2 separate regions of the Homo sapiens genome follow, and region 2 is linked to region 1. The links come from fine-mapping of genetic effects on gene expression. A gene starts in region 1. The other region holds a variant in brackets. All regions are shown on one strand. Distances are between the middles of the regions. Region 1 holds the start of PIK3R6 (phosphoinositide-3-kinase regulatory subunit 6). Region 2 overlaps PIK3R6 (phosphoinositide-3-kinase regulatory subunit 6).

Evidence for each region.
Region 2: its variant is fine-mapped to the expression of PIK3R6 in whole blood (INTERVAL, PIP above 0.99).

What each region holds. Positions count from the first base shown.
Region 1 is chr17:8,863,958-8,872,973 of GRCh38, forward strand. It overlaps PIK3R6 (phosphoinositide-3-kinase regulatory subunit 6), which reads right to left and starts at 3,717. Exons shown (of 20, transcript NM_001010855.4): 1 at 3,572-3,717. LOC107985071 (a long non-coding RNA gene) reads left to right here and starts at 3,817. Exons shown (of 2, transcript XR_001752787.2): 1 at 3,817-4,048; 2 at 4,575-5,076. RefSeq lists enhancers at 943-1,012, 1,063-1,202, 1,313-1,662, 3,486-3,665, 3,696-3,845.
Region 2 is chr17:8,833,247-8,842,262 of GRCh38, forward strand. PIK3R6 (phosphoinositide-3-kinase regulatory subunit 6) reads right to left here. Exons shown (of 20, transcript NM_001010855.4): 3 at 6,368-6,451; 4 at 5,318-5,409; 5 at 4,557-4,625; 6 at 3,545-3,677; 7 at 3,301-3,370; 8 at 2,027-2,210. Among named protein-coding and RNA genes, the nearest start is that of PIK3R6, 30 kb to the right of the region's middle. RefSeq lists enhancers at 1-54, 3,580-4,386. The variant T/C (reference allele first, on the strand shown) is at 5,078.

The DNA.
Region 1 (9,016 bases):
CAAGTCCTGAGTTGCAAGGGTGCCCAGTGTTTTTAAGGGACAGCGTTTGGGGTGCAATGAGTGGGGGACACTAGGAAGATGTTGGGAGACAATTCTCCATAGGTTTCTGTTTGTGCATGCCTGGTGAGCATTCTTCTGCACCATCTTTTCAAATACGTTTGTATAGCAAACAGCCTTGGAAGATACTGTCCATTCTAGGACAGAAGACTAATTTGCTGTCAATATAATAGAGATAATGTCTCCTTTCAGGGTAAAAGTTGGGCAGGTTTGTTTGCAGCTCGTCATGAAAATTTGGGGTTTCCTAGGCTCAGGGTTCCTGGGCTATGATGCAACAGAGTCCATTTGGATTGGGCTCCTTGCGGCGCCCCTAGGACTTAGGGGAAAGGGGGACCTATAATCACAATGTTCATGCTCCTAGTTGTGCTGTGAGTAATAGAGTTCTTTGTCTCTGACTCTGGAGTCTCATGTCTTCTGCTGGTGACCATGAAGCTGTGGTGGGCTAACTTGTTAGTTCTAAGTTAACTTATAACTAACAGATCCTTCTAACTTATAACCCAGGTCCTTCACAGCTCTTTTTTTTTTTTTTTTTTTTTTTTTTTTAGACAGAGTCTCACTCTGTCGCCAGACTGGAGTGCAGTGGCGCAATCTCGTCTCACTGCAACCTCTGCCTACTGGGTTCAGGTGATTCTCCAGCCTCAGCCTCCCGAGTACCTGGGACCACAGGCGCCCGCCACCACGCCCAGCTAATTTGTTGTATTTTTAGTAGAGACGGGGTTTCACCGTGTTGGCCAGGATGGTCTCGATCTCTTGACCTCGTGATCCACCCACCTCGGCCTCCCAAAGTGCTGGGATTACAGGCGTGAGCCACCGCACCCAGCCCCTTCACAGTTCCTGGCAGAGGGATGAGATCAGAGACAAAGAATGAAGGGATGAATGAATTGGGATTCAGAGAGCATTCTTCCTTAAACACAGAACATCAGCACTGAACAAGTCGCAGGCCAGGTGCACACACACAGCTCATCACTCCCTTGGGGTACAACAAGCCCAAGGACTGACCACAGAACCATAGAAGCCTTCTATGGACACGGCAAAAAGAAGCAAATGGGGACCACCTGTTCACAGCTGCTGCTCCCTGTTGTTGGTGTGAGATAAAGTGGGGGTGACCTCCTGGATAGAGGAGAAGACTGAAGTAAGAGGGCTTGGAGGAAGATCTGAGGAAGCCTGGCTCAGGTTCAGAGTTTCTGAACCTGAAGATTCTGAACATGAAGATTCCAGATCTGACTGTCCCTTGTGCCCCCATCCCCCCAGCTCACCATTGCTGGCTTCTCGGACAAGCTGTTCAGACAGAAGAACCCACCACCTAGGCCTCCCTATACCTGCAGGAATAAAGCCTGGGCAGAAAAGATGTGGAGCTTCCAGGCCTCCCTATACCACAGCTGCAGGAATAAAGCCCTGGCAGAAAAGACGGGGAGCTTCCCAGGGCCACACTCTGTCTGCCTCCTGTCCTCCAGCCACTCCTGTGGCACAGAGAGAGGGGACCTGCAGAGCCTGGGTCACCTGCCTCTGTTGCCTCCCCTCTTCTCCCACCAGAGCTGCCTCGTGCCCTCAGGGTTTCAGGGGCAGCTCAGGCTTGCCAGACGTCATAGCTGTGTTTTTTTTTTTTTTGGATCGGAGCGTGTGGTGAGTGAGCTGGCAGTGAGGGACTAAGGGAGTGAGAGGACAGAGCTCTGGGTCCTGAGGGGGCCCCCTCAACCTTTAGCCCTTGCCCCCATGAGGTCTACTTCTCAGATTCCCAAGGAGCCGGGAGGTGAGGGTCCTGCTGCCCTGGCTGGCCCCCGTGGACAAGGACAGGCCTGTTTCCTCAGCTGTGTCTGCTTCTGGCTGGAAGGAAACACCTGGATATGAAAGAGCCAGTGGGGTGGGGGTGGGGGAGCATTGTTCCCAGGGGCAGGGAAGCTTGGTGGGATCTGAATTCAGGTGGGGCCTGAATGCAGCAGGGACCAGATGGCGATGACTGCAGCTTGGCATCTGCAGCCACCGTGTCAGCCGAGGCGCTTTCGTGGAGACAGTGTAGGGCCTGCAGCAGGTTCTAGTGTGAGGCAGCGGGGCATGGTGGCCAGGCAGGTGGCATTCCAATCCTGTTAATAGGGCAACTTGGGCTGCTTGCTTAAAACCTCCGTGCCTCAGTTTCCCTATCTTAAAGGGGACCTGACAACAACACCTACCTCATAGGCTTGTCATGAGACTAAATGAGATGATATTTGAAAACCACATAGAGCTAAATAAATAAATGGACCGGGCCAGGCGCTGTGGCTCATGCCTGTAATCCCAGCACTATGGGAGGCCGAGGTGGGTGGATCACGAGGTCAGGAGATCAAGACCATCCTGGCTAACACGGTGAAAACACAAAAAATTACTACTAAAAATACAAAAAATTAGCCAGGCGTGGTGGTGTGTGCCTGTAGTCCCAGCTACTTGGGAGGCTGAGGCAGGAGAATCGCTTGAACCCAGGAGACGGAGGTTGCAGTGAGCCGAGATCGCACCACTACACTCCAGCCTGCGCAAAAGCGTGAGACTGTCTCAACAACAACAAAAAAGGACCGGCCTGCGAGTGCTCCACACACCCCCTCTAGCTGTGCTCCCCCCAACACCTGACTTTCCCACTTGCTTTCCTGCCTCTGGGGGTTTGCACACTTTGCTCCCCATTGCTGAGGTGCCTCTTGCCTCCTCTTTGCACACCAGGTCCTCCCTTGAGCCTCAGCCAGGCACCACCTTCCACGGGACCCTCCCTGAGCCCGCACCCTGCAGTCTCTTTCATCCTGCACACACCACACACCTCCTGGCTCGCTGAGGACCCTGAAGGTTCTGAGTTGGTCACTCGCAGCTGTGTTCAGACCCTCTTTGCAAGCAGTCAGCCCTTCAAGGACAGAGACCAGGCCTCGGTCAGACTCTGGCACACATAGAAGATACTGGATTTGTGTATAGGAAGAGAATCAGCCAGACCAGCATGACTTTCACCAAATTCCCCAGGAAAGTGATGGGCAGATGATGTCCCAGAAAGGGCACAGACTGGGACCCAGATGTTTCACACTGAGTCCTGCTCCTTGCTAACCCACTCTGCAATCTTTGGCAAGTTGCTTCATCTCCCTAAGCCTCAGTCTTCTGTTCTATAAAATGGCACTAAAACACTTATCCAGTCAACCTCTAAATGCTGGTGAGAATCAAATGGGAAAATGGGTGTACTCTGCAGCACCGGGCATCAATCATTAGTCCTATTATTAACAGCATGTACAGGATTCCAGAAGAAAGGAGAGTCCTTCTCACAGGGTCCCGTGTCTTTTCATCTTGTGAAAATGGGCTGAAACAATCTTAACTTGGCAGAATTACCCTGCAGTGTCTGAGGTCACCCTTCTCAGAAAGACGGCCCTGGCAGCCCTGAGCCTGGATAAATAAGAGCCAGGGGTGTTTCAGCCCCCCCAGGGGCTCCCCTTCCAGGTCCCTCCGTTCCACCCCTCTATCTGTTCTGCTCAGATCTGCCTGCCTGGCGATCTCCATCCAAGCCAGCACTTACCTTGGTTCGGTGGCAGCTTCTGGGCTCCCCAAGTCCTTCAGCCAACTCCCCACGGTCCTGAGCGAGGTCCCCAGTCCCAGAGAAGCAGATGTCTTGGGGGAGCCTCCACGGGTGTCTGTGGTCTTGACTGTGCTCTTCAGATCTGCAAAGAAAAGCTCGATGTCTCACAGCTCTGTCCCCTCCTCTTCCTTCCCCTTCCTTGTGGCCCTCGAAGCTCCTCCCAGAATGCATTTTGCTGTGAGGATCCTTTCTAAAGAAGCATGACCCACGGTCACTGGAGGTCCTTTATTCTGATCGAATGTGACCAATTTTATGGGGCAGGAGGGGGACACCTCCCAAGAGACTCCCTCTGGTGTTGACGGGGGAGGGACTGATGCAGGGAGCCCTGACCTCTCTCTCAAGCTCCAGACTCACCAACCATCCCCCACCCCTGGACATGGCCAGCCAGATGTCCCTCAAGCACCTCCATCTCAACAGGTACAAACCGAGCTCATCATTTCTCCCTCTAAGCCCACTTCTCTGTTTCCTGCCTCAGAATCAGCAACCTCGGTATCATCCTAACGCCTCCCTCTTCCTCGCCTGTTACATCTAAACTGCACCAAGCCCTGTCAATAGGTCATGGATCCTCCACTTTCTTCCATCCCTATGGCTGTCACTGTTTCACCTGACTACCATGGTCTTTCTCCTGAAACACTACAATAGCCTGAGGTCCTTCACCCCACAGCCAAAGGTCTCTTTCTAAGAGTGAAACACAAATCTATTCATGTTACACTCCTGCTACAACCTTCAATGGCTCCTTATTACTTTAAAGAGAATGGCCAAACTCCTCAGTGTGACTTGCCAGACCCTTCTTGATCTGGTCCCTCCCTAAACTCCAACCTCATGCTTTATCCCCTCACTCCAGCCCCTCCCAGAAGTACTGCAGTCTCTTAACTATCCAGGCTGTGGGAATCACTTCCCAACCCTTCTCCTGGCTCATCCCTTGTCATTCATTATTTATCAGAGAAGAACAAAAAAACAAGCCTAAGAGGCAGGAGGAAAGTGGAGTGCCAGGGATGCTGGCAGAAGACAGAATGCCAAGGAGGAGACAATGGTCAACGACGCCAATGATTGTGGAGAGGACACAGGTGAAGAGAATGAAGAAGCATCTGCTGTCCTTGGCAATTAGGAGAGAGCAGTGCTGGGCAGGAACAGTAGACCTGCTGGGGGAAGTTGATCAACCGCATGGTGACACATTTGCTACTTTGTCATTTTCTTTTTTTCACATTTTGAAGTCAAACACTATTTGGGAGAGTCTCTGACACATTTCTAGAGCTTTGAAAAACTCACAGATTCTATGCTGTCATCCCGTTGGGCCTAATGGGTAAATGGCTCTAGAGAGTGACAGATTGCTGACAGCAGGGTTTGAGTGCTGGATCCAGCTATGCCTGAAATTCTGGGGCTGAATCTACTCTTGGACTGTTCATTGTACATGATCCAATAAATTCCATTCTTTTTTGGATTAAGCCTGTTGGAGTTTGTCACTTGGCTCAACTCAGAGAGCTTTGGGGCTGTGAAGTCACTGATCCTTTCCCGTAGGGGCTTGACTAGGTTCTATGCTGACCTTTCATTTTGCAGAGGAAGCTATTTGGAAAAAAAGTCCAGAAATGTAAATCATTTACTCTATTGCTGTGCCTTCCTCCCATAACTGCTTCTTTTCTGTCCCCTTCATGTGACTGAAGTCACATTCTATCTTGCATCTTTGTATTAGCGTTCTCAGCTCACATGTCTGCCTTGTTCCTCCCTCAATGAGTCCTGAAAGAGCAGGGGCTAGAGTGTTGTTCATTATTCCGTCCATCACAGGGTGAAAGAGTGTTAAGAGAATGCTTGGCTTATTTATGAAGCAAATGGGTGACTGAACGAAGGAAACGAATACGCCCAGGACAGAATAAAGGACCAAGAACTCAGCCCCTGCAGGTTCCAGACTCAGCAGCAGCTGGGCAGTGTGGCCACCCTGGGCAGCGCCTCTCCTTATCAGCCTTGGCTTAACTGAATCGGAAATCACAAGCCGAGGTCACTTCTTGTGGGTGCACTGCTCTCTTTATCATCAGCTGCCATTTCTGCAACTGCATTTGCTGTGGTACCCATAGAGGGGGCAGCTTGGTGACCATAGAGAGCCCCAGAGCTGTCCCTTGCAAAGAGGAGCTAGGGTGCTTTCATTTTTGAGTGCACACGGCTGACCGCCAGCCAGGAACAAAGGACAGTGGGAGGAGGAGGTGACAATAGGAAGGACCAAGTTCCCCCACGGACCCCAGTGCACCGTCCCTACCATCACCAAGGCAAGGCAGCACTACCCCTTTTGCCAATCCCAGCCATGTCTTTCCTCTCCAGACCATGTTCTTAGGATTTGTTTAATCTGGGTTTTCCAGGCTGTGCTCTTACCAGGTTTCTCATCTGCACCAGTCTCCAAAGAGCAGCCCCCTCTTTCCCTGCCAAAAGGCAAATGATCCGTCAGCATCAGAACTGTAAAAATTAAGGTTCCCTGCTTTCACTGTACTAGTTCCCAGATGACCTGGTCAGCTAATGGAGGCAAAGACCCCCCAGAATGATCAATGCCCAAGATACAGAAGCAGAAGGCCCACCATCTATTGTCACTCCCCTTCCTCCTCCTCCTTCTGCCACCCTCCTCTGCCAAGTGAGGGTCCCCACTCCTGGTGACCCTTCTGGGCATAGCTGCAATGGCCTCTCTTCAGGTTCTCCTATCTCAGCCAGGGTGTTTGGAAGTCTGTTTACATAACTCGCCTTGGGGTTACAAAGTTACTTACCTTCTCTACAGATGAACCACTGTTTCCAATCCATCCTCATCCATTTTCTAATCCATTACAAAGCCACTGAGAGCTTTAAACAAAAATTAAATCTTCTTGCAACTGTGGACAGAGCCACGGGTGAGGAGGGCCAGGTACCAGCATTGCGGAGGTCTGCAGGACCACAGTATTGGAGTCAGGCAAGAATTACATGCTTAGGAAAAGAGGTCCCCAGGGTCGCTTGTGTCCTCACCTGCAGTGCCACCCACCGTGGGAGCTGCTCTGGGATTATTCAGCATCGAAGGCGGCAGAATTTGTCATTTCAGTTTTCTAAGGAATCCACTTACATAAAATACTAATAAGCAAAGTCAATTTTACTAAAGATTATGTAGGAGGATGAAGGGAGTGTACATCACACGTCTCTTGGCAAACTATTCAAAAATCCTCTGTGGATAGTTCTGAGGATCCCGACGTCCCTCCTCCATGCCATGCCATTGGAGCGGGCAGCCTGGAATGGGGTGGGCTTTTGTGCTTTTTCCTGTCTCTCTTCTCCCCATGTGACCCTGACTCATTAGCGTCGGTTCCTCCCTCCTAGATTTTTTTCACAGACATATCCAAATTGTCTTCGAAGCCCATTCAGAGCACTGTAATTCCATTCTAATTCTCAACTCCCCACTTTTCTACCCCAAATTCATGACTGCCACCCACACAGATAGCTCTCTGGTTGGCAGGACCCATTTTTAGAAAACCGTGAGAGGTAATAAACCAGAAAAGAGCTGTTAGGAAAACACATTTTGATTCGTTTAAACAATCACCTCGTGAGTCAGCTACAGTTACACAGATAGGTTAAGTTTAAACGCTCTCATCCCTGGTGGAGGTGAGACTCGACACACTGCCTCGGCACAGGCAGTACCCAACTGCGGGGCACCTTTGCCTCTGGTGCAGTCCCTCCAGCTCTTGCCCACGGCCCAGAGGCAGGCAGGACAGCGTCATGCTCTAAGCCACTGGTTCGCTAAGGGTAGTCCCTGGACTGGCAGCATCAGCATTGCCCTGGAAATCCGTTATCAACTAGTACTGTCTGCTGTGGCTGTGGAAAGGGAGGAACAGTGCACACCTCGGGAATTTTCCATCCTTTACTTCCAGCAGCGTTATTTGGCAGAGTGCATGCAGAATCAGGACTAATTGGGGTGATAGAAGAAGCGGATTTATGCTTCATATCCAACCAGTCACCTTCTCAGCTATTTTTCTTATTTTTGGTGGTGGTGGGGAAGTTTTTATTTTAAATGCCATCAATGTTCTTTTTTTGTTAAGCTGTAATGTTTAAAAAACTAGTCAAGTAGGCCAGGCACGATGGCTCATGCCTGTAATCCCAGCACTCTGGGAGGCCGAGGCAGGTGGATCACCTGAGGTCAGGAGTTCGAGACCAGCCTGGCCAATGTGGTGAAACCTCGTCTCTACTAAAAATACAAAAATTAGCCTGGCATGGTGGCCGGTGCCTGTAATCCCACCTACTTGGGAGGCTGAGGCAGGAGAATCACTCAAACCTGGGAGGCAGAGGTTGCAGTGAGCCAAGATTGTGCCATTGCACTCCAGCCTGGGTGACACAGCAAGACTTCGTCACAAACAAACAACAACAAGAAGAACAAAAACTACTTAGGTAATCCATAAATATATTTCCATTATAAAAACACTCAAGCATTGTAGGACCCTAAGAGGAAAAAAGGAGGGTCTCTCTCCTCCCCCTCCTCAATTTCTTTACCCTCCCACCCAGTGATAACCATGGTAAATAGCTTAGGGTAGTTTATACATGTGAGCACCATACAAATCGCTCTTTAACTTGCTTTGTTTACTTGAAGATCACGATATATTGGTACATAAGGATCAACCACATTCTTTTCTTACATTTAAATGTACATGTTTGTTTGGACTAGTTACACATTTACAGGGTTCGAAATGGGAAGGACACAGAGAAGATCAGTCACTCCCTCTTCCGAAAGCTGCCCTTCAGGTGAAGAAAACCTTGTGACCTCCTCCTTCTCTTTTGCGGGTGCAACTGTCCCCTCTCCCAAACTCCTTGGTACTGGCAGCTCTGTGATGAGGTGAGAGGGCAGACACTTTGGGGTTGCTGTGGAGGGCGGGGCCTGGTCTCTTCTCATTTCCCCTGTTCTCATGGCTGCCTTGAGAGGGAGACCAAGTGGACCCCTGCTTCCTCTCCCTCTGCCCCTAATACCGCAGGTTCCTCCTTGGACAGGCTTTTGCTGGTGGAGCTGAGCTGGGGAGGTGTTAGGAGTCTCTTCATCTGCATGATATGCATATCACCCTCTCCATTTTCTTTTTCCAAATGAACTCACACCAGGAAGTGGAACAAATCAAGATGGCTGGGGTCAACCAGGAAATCAGTGAGAAAACGCAAAGACCCCAACTTGCATTATTTATGCAAATTGCCTGCCCTCCAAACATGTGCAGGACCACACACCCACTCATGTGCACACGCACACACACACACACACACACACACGCACGCATGCACACACTGAGCTACACCCCCAAAAGTAAGCCAGGCTACCTGGCTGGGCCCTCATCCTGGCACGTGCCTCTCACTCTGTGTGACCCTGTGCAGGCCTCTCCCAGTCTCTGGGCCTCAGTTTCCTCCTCTGTAACC
Region 2 (9,016 bases), 31 kb before region 1:
CCCCTCACACGCTATTATGGGGAGACTACTGGTCTGCAATGTCTGTTACCCAGAGAGGCAGAGATAGCCACTGACGCCCACTTCCTGAAAGCGTCACCCAGCACTTGGATCAATGTTCTAGCCCCCACTAGATTGTGAATTCCAGGAATTCACAGGGAATTTTGTCTGTTTCATTCATAGCTGCATCTCCAGCACTTAGAATAGCTCACTGCACCAGGTGTTGTTCTAGGGGCTGGGATACAGCAGCAAACAAAAGAGATTGTGTGATCTGGGAAGCCCCCCCTGAGAAAGTGACTTTTTTTTTTTTTTTTTTGAGACGGAGTCTTGCTCTGTCACCCAGGCTGGAGTGCAGTGGTGTGACTTTGGCTCATTGCAACCTCTGCCTCCTGGGTTCAAGCGATTCTCCTGCCTCAGCCTCCCGAGTATCTGGGACTACAGGTGCGCACCACCACATCCAGCCAATTTTTGTATTTTTAGTAGAGACGGGGTTTCACCATGTTGGCCAGGACGGTCTCGATCTCCTGACCTCATGATCTGCCTGCCTTGGCCTCCCAAAGTGTTGGGATTACAGGCGTGAACCACCGCGCTTGGCCGAAAGTGACTTTTAGGTAAAGACTTGAAGTGAAAGAGTGAGCCATGCAGCCCAGCGCGGTGGCTCACGCTTGTAATCTCAGCACTTTGGAAGGCCGGGGTAGGTGGATCACGAGGTCAGGAGATGGAGACCACGGTGAAACCCCGTCTCTACTAAAAATAGAAAAAATTAGCTGGGTGTGGTGGCCGGCGCCTGTAGTCCCAGCTACTCAGAGAGGCTGAGGCAGGAGAATGGCGTGAACCCAGGAGGCGGAGCTTGCAGTGAGCCGAGATCACGCCACTGCACTCCAGCCTGGGCAACAGAGCAAGACTTCGTCTCAAAAAAAAAAAAAAAAAAAAAAGAGTGAGTCGTGCAGGTATCTAAGAGAACGTTCCAAGCATAGGGAGTAGCCAGCGCAAAGGCCCTGGGGTGCAAGTATGTTAGGCATGTGCATGTTGGGAGACAAATGAGGAGGCTTGTTTAGCTGGAGCAGAGGAAATGAGAGGGAAAGTTAGGAGACAGGCCAGAGAGGAAATGAAGAGAGATGGGAACAGGTCAAGGCCCTCAAGATGAGGTTCTTGTATTTTTATTTTTAGAGATGGGGTGTCTCTCTGTTACCCAGGCTAGAGTGCAGTGGTACAGTCACAGCTCACTGCAGCCTTGAACTTGGCTCAAGTGATCCTCTTGTCTTCCGAGTAGCTGGGACTGCAAACACATGTCACTGCGTCTGGTATTTTTTTTTTTTTATTACTTTTTGTAGAAATGGGGTCTTGCTATGTTGCCCAGGCTGGTCTCAAACCCCTGGCCTTAAGCAATCCTCCTGCCTCGGCCTCTCAAGTACCTGCAATTATAGGCATGAACCACCACACCAGGCTCTTATAGGTCATTGCAATCACTTTGGCTTTGACTCCGAGTGAGATGATGTAGTAGCTACTGTTGTGGTGACCCAGATTCCTGCTTTCGGGGCTGAGACACTCATTCACCCTGCTGCTAGGAATACTGGCATTATCTTATATCTTATTATTGGTTTTTTTTTTGGAAATGGAGTCTCTCTCTGTCACCCAGGCTGGAGTGCAGTGGCACAATCTTGGCTCACTGCAACCTCCACTTTCCGGGTTCAAGCTATTCTCCTGCCTCAGCCTCCAGAGTAGCTAGGATTACAGGTGCCCGCCACCACGGCCAGTTAGTTTTTGTATCTTTAGTAGAGACTGGATTTCGCCATGTTGGCCAGGCTGGTCTTGAACTCCTGACCTCAGGTGATACACCCGCCTCAGCCTCCCAAAGTGCTGGGGTTATAGGTGTGAGCCACTGCGCCCAGCCAAAATGTATTAATTTTTGATTTGGGGGAAAAGGTGATGCGAAACAGGAGAAGGAGGAAGAGCAGGGTGAATGACTGGTATGGGCATGCAGGGACGAGGGCTGGGACTGACAAGGGGCTGCAGGCAGGGCCATTACCTGCAGCTTCCTGTGCAGAGCGCCTGCGTGACAGGCCTCCCCCAGAGCCGCCTGCAGGGCGTGGGAGACCACGTGGCGCATGCAGGTCTCTGGTGTCTGCTGCGCCTGGGCCGCCTCGATCTCCAGTAGCAGAGCACTGCACACAGACGCAGACACCAGCTCAGGATCCACGAAGAGGAACACTCTGAGGGCAGAAGCAGAGGGGAGAGGTGGGATTGATAGTAACTAATGGGAGAGGGGCCACCGGATGGGCACCCTCAGAGCTGTGCAGCACCTCCAAGTAATTTAATTCTGCTAAAAAGAGGAGTCTCAGATTCAAAAGTCTCTGGGTGGGATGACAATAGGGAGTGGTGAGGACTGTGGCAAATAAGAGCATGCACAGCCCTTCTAGAGGGGCAGCTCTAATCCACTGTCCACAGAGGAAAGCAGGCCTAGTCCCATGTTTAGGAAAGTTCCAGCCTCAATCCTGCTCCCTCTCTCAGCATCCTGGCCCAGGGACCAGGTCACCCTCTAGGAGGGACCCTAAATCCTTCCTGCCAGAACTGGAGTTCTGAACTCTGAGTGAATCTCACCTTCTTTCATCACTCTTATCACACCAGAGAGCCAACCTCCCCTACTCCCTCCTCCTCACCCACTGTGTCTCCCCACCTCTCCCATGGGTGCCCTGGGCCTCCTTGCATCTTTCATGAACTCAGCACCTCACACCCCAAACTCAAGCTGTGCCTTTCAGGGCCAAGTTAGTGGAGGTGCCTGCAGAAGAGGGAGGTGCCGCTCCCAACTTCATCACCCCTCTCCCCAACACGAGCAGGGGACACTTCCTCAGTCTTATCTAAGAGGCTTGGCGTCCCCCATGGAAGCCCTCTGGCTTCATTGTGCACTTGCGCCTGAGCCCCTCCGCTATGGCTATTCTGGAGTCTCCTCTGGCTGCCTGGCTGGTATGATGCTGCATTATGGCCAAGGGCAGGATGGAGGTGGAATGACAGAGCCCCAGAGTGGCCCCGAGGCCATGTCCACCTTCTGCATGTGAGCAGGGTAGCTTCCAATCCAACCTGAGAAGAAAGACCTATCCTGTGTTCAGTGGTCTCCAGAAAACAATATGGCGCCAACCTTGAATGGCAAACGCACCCCACTGCTGGACAAATATCATGGCTGGGGAGGTCTGCTAGGGCTCTTCTTAATCCAGCCTCCTCTTTTGTCCTCCTGCCAGGGAGCAGTCACTAAAGCCACAACAGTTTTAGGAGGCTGAAGGTAGCAATTTTTCTGGGGCCACTCACCTCTCCTGGTAGGGATACAGCTCATTCGTCAAGTTCTGTTCGGCAATGACCATCCTTTGGTACAGTGTCCCTGCAAACCAGACCACTTTGGCCAAACAGCCCCCAAGTCTCTGACTCCCATTCTCCACCTTCCTACAGAAGGTGTGGAGGCTTTTGAGCTCCCCGGTATCCTGGAGAAAAAGGAAAGACCCTGGGCAATGTTGGAGGTGCAGCGTGGGAGACAAAGATGCCCAGTGACTCTTACCTGGGACAGCCATCTCCGTTTTCAGCCTTATCGCGCAGTCCAAGGCGACTGTGCAGTAGGGGGTGGGCAGGGTCAGTAACCTTGTGCAAAAGGCATAGATTCTCTGGTAGAGCTCTTCTGTGATTCCTGTGGCCTGGGTGAGAGGGAGGAGGGGGAGGTGAGAGGGAGGAGGTGGAGGTAAGAGGGAGGAGGGGGAGGTGAAGGGTCCCGGGGGAGTTTCCGGGGAGGGGCTTGGGAGAAGAGGTGGAAGGTCAGGCCTAACAGCCAGACCTGGGCTCACAGCTCTCTCCCAAACCCACACCTTCCAGCCTCTTCTCCCAGCACCTGTAAGACATCCATTTGTCGCCCCGCCCCAACTTACCAAGATAAAAATTCATTGCATCAAGTTATGCAAGCAAATCAACTTCCTCCCAGCCCTCCTGCTCCATCAGGGAAGCACATTCCTGCGGTTCTCCAGGCTCAAAACCATGGAGGCACTTCCTCAGTCTCCTTTGCTCCTCCTTGCATCCCACAGGCCTGAAATGCTCCACAGTGCCCGGGAGGCCCCCCTCTCCCTCCCGACCTCAGTGTGCCCTCCGTCTCTGCCGGAGCTAAGCCCCATCTTGACCCTGGACTCTCCAGCAACCCCAGACTTGGTCTTCCTGCCTGCCTTAACCACCACTCCCACCCGCTGCAACAACACGCAGCTCCCGATTACTCCTCCTGAGACATTAACCACATGAGTATCATGTCTCTTCTCTGTGTAGGGATCAGTGATGTCTCCTGTTGCACTGCACACAGGAGCAAACCCAAAGACCTCATCCTGCCTTTCAAGGCCATTGTCTCTCCAGAGTTCTCTCTCCATATGGGAGGGAAAGGGGGTGGCTAGTGCTCAGAAGCCAGTTTAGGGCAGGCAATCCAAGGGATTTTCTAGGCTCATCCTGGCGGAGACTGAGTGCCCACTAAGGGGAGAGTGTCCAGCCCAGCCACATGCAGGTCACCACTACCACCTCGACCTCAGTCCCCAGCTCACCTTGGTGAGCACGTACATTACAGTGTGCAGCAAGGGAATGATGACATGCCGGAGGTCCTGGCTTTCCGCCTGGAAAACAGGAGATCACGTGACAGGTATTGGGCTGGGGGAATCCCCACTTCATAGCGGGAGGCAGTCTAGGCTGGGAGTGGGCAGGAGATGGGGTGGAAGGCAGCCAGGGGGAGAGCAAAGGGCCATTGTCTGCTCTGGATAGAGGAGTGGGGAGGGGAGGGCACACAGGTGAGGAAGCCCCTCAGTGAGGGTGTGGGAGCGTGGGGGGGCCTCAGAGAACTCTGCAGGTGAGGGGCCAAATTTAATTAGGGTAGGAGTCGCAGCAAAGCAACAAACAAGTCCTCAGCTCGGAGCCTCCCTTGAGTGCAGTGTTTCCCAAACGGTTGCAAAGTACAACATTGGGTAGTGTGAAGGAGAATTTAGGTGGCCCGAGGATAATTTTGAGAAACGTCAATAGTCGTATATTTATGTTTATAGGTACCTTCTGTTTCTGACAAGTGATGCGGGTT[T/C]TCCATTTGTGGTCGCGTTATAGTGCTTCTTTTTGAAAGATGTTTATTCAAGTAAAACAATGAGAGTCGACGTAAAGAAAATACTGCTTACGTAAAAGTACAGGAGGGAGATGCATATGGTAAAAATCATGCAGGCAACCAAAGCTTATGAGATATAGCGCTGCCAGGACTGAGCCCCTGCCCAATTGGCCCCTCTCTTCCTTTCATCCCCGTCTTCCTCCCTGAGGTCCAGGAACTCACCTTCTCCAGTTCTCTGAGAAGAATGCGGACCAGCACTGGGCTCTTACCGGGATCTCGCTCGACCTTCTTGTGCAGGGACCACCTCCACATGCCTGGGCCAGGAGAAAGGGGAGCCCGGCATGAGCAGGTGGGCAGTTCTTAGAGGAGACCCCTCTGAGCAGGACCCTGAGCCCTGGAGCCTCAGCTGCAGCTCTGACCAGCCACGGGTGTGACCCCGCCACCAGCGCTTGGCTCCAGGTGCACCTGGGTGGGCTCCTCCCAAGTGGGGAGTTCTAGTCTGTAGCCCTTTGTGGACAGTGAATTCCCAGGGCAGAAAGGAGGGCAGGTGGGACACACCAGTGGGGACAGGTGTGTGACAGGTGTATGCGTGTGGACCACAGAGCAGCAGTGCTTGCAGGTGTGTGCTCCGAGCCACATTCTGGAAGTCCTGCAGGCCTGGAGTGCTGAGGGGAATTAGGTTTGGAAGTGGAGCTAGGGAAGGTGGTTAACAAAGAGGGTGGCAGGCCGGGTGCCGTGGCTCATGCCTGCAATCCCAGCACTTTGGGAGGCTGAGACAGGCGGGTCACTTGCGGTCAGGAGTTCGAGACCAACCTGGCCAACATGGTGAAACTGCATCTCTACGAAAAATACAAAAATTAGCAGGGCATGGTGGCACACGCCTGTAATCTCAGCTACTTGGGAGGCTGAGGCAGGAGGATCGCTTGAACCAGGGAGGCAGAGGTTGTGGTGAGCCGAGTTTGCACCACTGCACTGCAGCCTGGGTGACAGAGTAGGACTCCATCTCAAAAACAAAAGAAAAAAAAAAGGAAAGAAAAAGGGTGGCAGATCCCCAATGTGCTCTGTGGCAGTTGCTGGGAGGGTTGAACTAGGGAGCAGAGAAGCCTTCTCAGTCCTTCAGGCTCTAGGTATTTCCAGCAGGAAAGGGGTTTGGTGAGACGACCCTTGCCCCCTGAGCTCCAGGCCGGGGCTCTTTCCTGTATGCGCGTGTATTGTTGGCTGGGGTTGGGTGGAGGTCAGAGGGACCAGCTGCTGCTGCCAGCTGGCTCTTACCTTGGTTGCTCTGCAGGGCAGGGGCCTGGGTGCTGAGCTCCCGGAGCACAGCCTGCACGCTCCTCTGGAGGTCCAGCTCCACATCTGGGCAGTGGTAGGGGTGGGAGGAAACTCAGTCCACTGAACCTCACCCTCGTCCCACCTCCATTCCTTCCGAGAGTGTCTTTAGCCATTTCTCTGAGCCTCAGGAGGTGCCCGAAGTAATCGACTTAGAGCTGGCAGCCAGCATGCCAGCCAGGGCTGGAATATAGCCTTCCCTTCCACGTTTCTGTGTTCTTTGTAAAACCTGCATTTCCCAAAGTGCAGTATGTGTACCACTGGTGGTATGTAGGACAATTTTAGGTGGTACACAAACGACCTTAAAATCTGAATAGTTATGCATTTATTTTAATGCATGTTAGAAAATACATGTATGTATTTTCATATATATGTGAAATGTATATATCCTCCAAACATATATATGAAATATATATATCCTCCAAATATGTATATGAAATATATAGCCTCCAAATATATATGAAATATATATAGCCTCCAAATATATATATGAAATATAGCCTCCAAATATATATATGAAATATATATAGCCTCCAAATATATATATGAAATATATACAGCCTACAAATATATATATGAAATATATACAGCCTACAAATATGTATATGAAATATATACAGCCTACAAATATGTATATGAAATATATATAGCCTCCAAATATGTATATGAAATATATATAGCCTCCAAATATGTATATGAAATATATATAGCCTCCAAATATGTATATGAAATATATATAGCCTCCAAATATGTATATGAAATATATATAGCCTCCAAATATATATATATGAAATATATATAGCCTCCAAATATATATATGAAATATATATAGCCTCCAAATATATATGAAATATATATATGGCCTCCAAATATGTATATCAAGTATATATACAGTCTCCAAATACGTATATGAAGTATATATCCTCCAAATATGTATATGAAATGTATATCCTCCAAATATATATGAAATATATATATCCTCCAAATATATATGAAATATATATATATAAAATATATATATAAAAAACTATTAGGTTTGTGCAAAAGTAATTGCAGTTTTTGCCATTATTATTATTATTTTTGTGTGTGTGTGTGTGTGTGAGACGGAGTCTAACTCTGTCATCCAGGCTGGAGTGCAGTGGCGCAATCTTGGCTCACTGCAATCTCCGCCTCCTGGGTTCACGCCATTCTCCTGCCTCAGCCTCCCGAGTAGCTGGGACTACAGGCGCCTGCCACCACGCCTGGCTAATTTTTTGTATTTTTAGCAGAGACGGGATTTCACCGTGTTAGCTAGGATGGTCTCAATCTCCTGACCTCGTGATCTGCCCGCCTCGGCCTTCCAAAGTGCTGGGATGACAGGCATGAGCCACCACGCCAAGCCTTTGCCATTATTTTTAGTAGTTCCTGAATCCATGCATGAAGCTAAAACTTATTTATTTTATTTATTTATTTTTTTGAAGCCTACAGCACCCTGTCTTTTCTGGTAGTCTCCACCCCCCGCCCCAAGTATAAAGCTAAAATCTAAAGTCAATTTAAAGAATCGTATCAGATACATACCAGGACAGGTGGTAACAAAGACTCTCTCCTTGACCAAACCTTACTCAGCCTCCTCTTAGCCCTCTTCTTCACTAGGGCTCAGCCCTGGCTCCTGTCCTGCCTTTGGCCTGCCCATCCCAGTTTTAGCAAGAATCCTGCCAAATCAGTTTAGGTTGGAGTCCTCCACTCTTGATATCTCCTGAACCCCTTCATCCCTTACCGTCGATGTATAAGAATTTGACTTGTGCCTCTAGCAAAAATCCTGTTAGCTCAGTTTAGCAAGAATGTCCCGACCCTTGATGTCTCCTCTTAGGAATTTTCCATCCGCTGACCCCTTCACTCTGCTCATTGGCTATAAATCCCCAACTGGCTTTTCTTTATTCCAAGTTGAGACTGCTTTCTCTTTCCTAATGCAATAGTCTTGGATAAGTCTTCCTTACCATTTAATAAGTTCCAGAATAATTTCTTTCTTTAACAGTGGTACGTTGACATGGGAAAAAAAAAAAACCATGAAAGTGGTACAAGAATAAGCAACTGACATTTGGGAAGTGTGGTAGCTGTGAGAATGTACCTCGCTCCTCTCCCACTACCGGGAGTTTAATGGAACCAGGTCCCCAGTTGCTGTGCTGTTGCAGTGGTTTGGATATTTGACCCTCCAAATCTCATATTGAAATTTGTTCCCCAGTGTTGGACGTGGGGCCTAATGGGAGGTGTTAGGGTCATGGTGGTGGATGCTTCATGAATGCCATCCTTGCGGTAATGAGTGAGTTCTCATTCTATTTGTTCCCCTGAGAACTGGTTGTTAAAAAGAGCCCGGCACCTTCCCCCTCTCTCTTGCTTCATCTCTCAGCATGTGATCTGTACACACTGGCTCCCCTTCCACCAGGAGTGGAAGTTTCCTGAGCCCTGAGCCCCTTATCAGAAGCAGATGCTGGCACCCTGCTTCTTGTACAGCCTGCAGAACGCTGAGCCAAATAAACCTCTTTTCTTTATAAATTACCCAGCTGCAGGTATTCCTTTATATTATAGCAATGCAAACAGACTAAGACAGCTGTG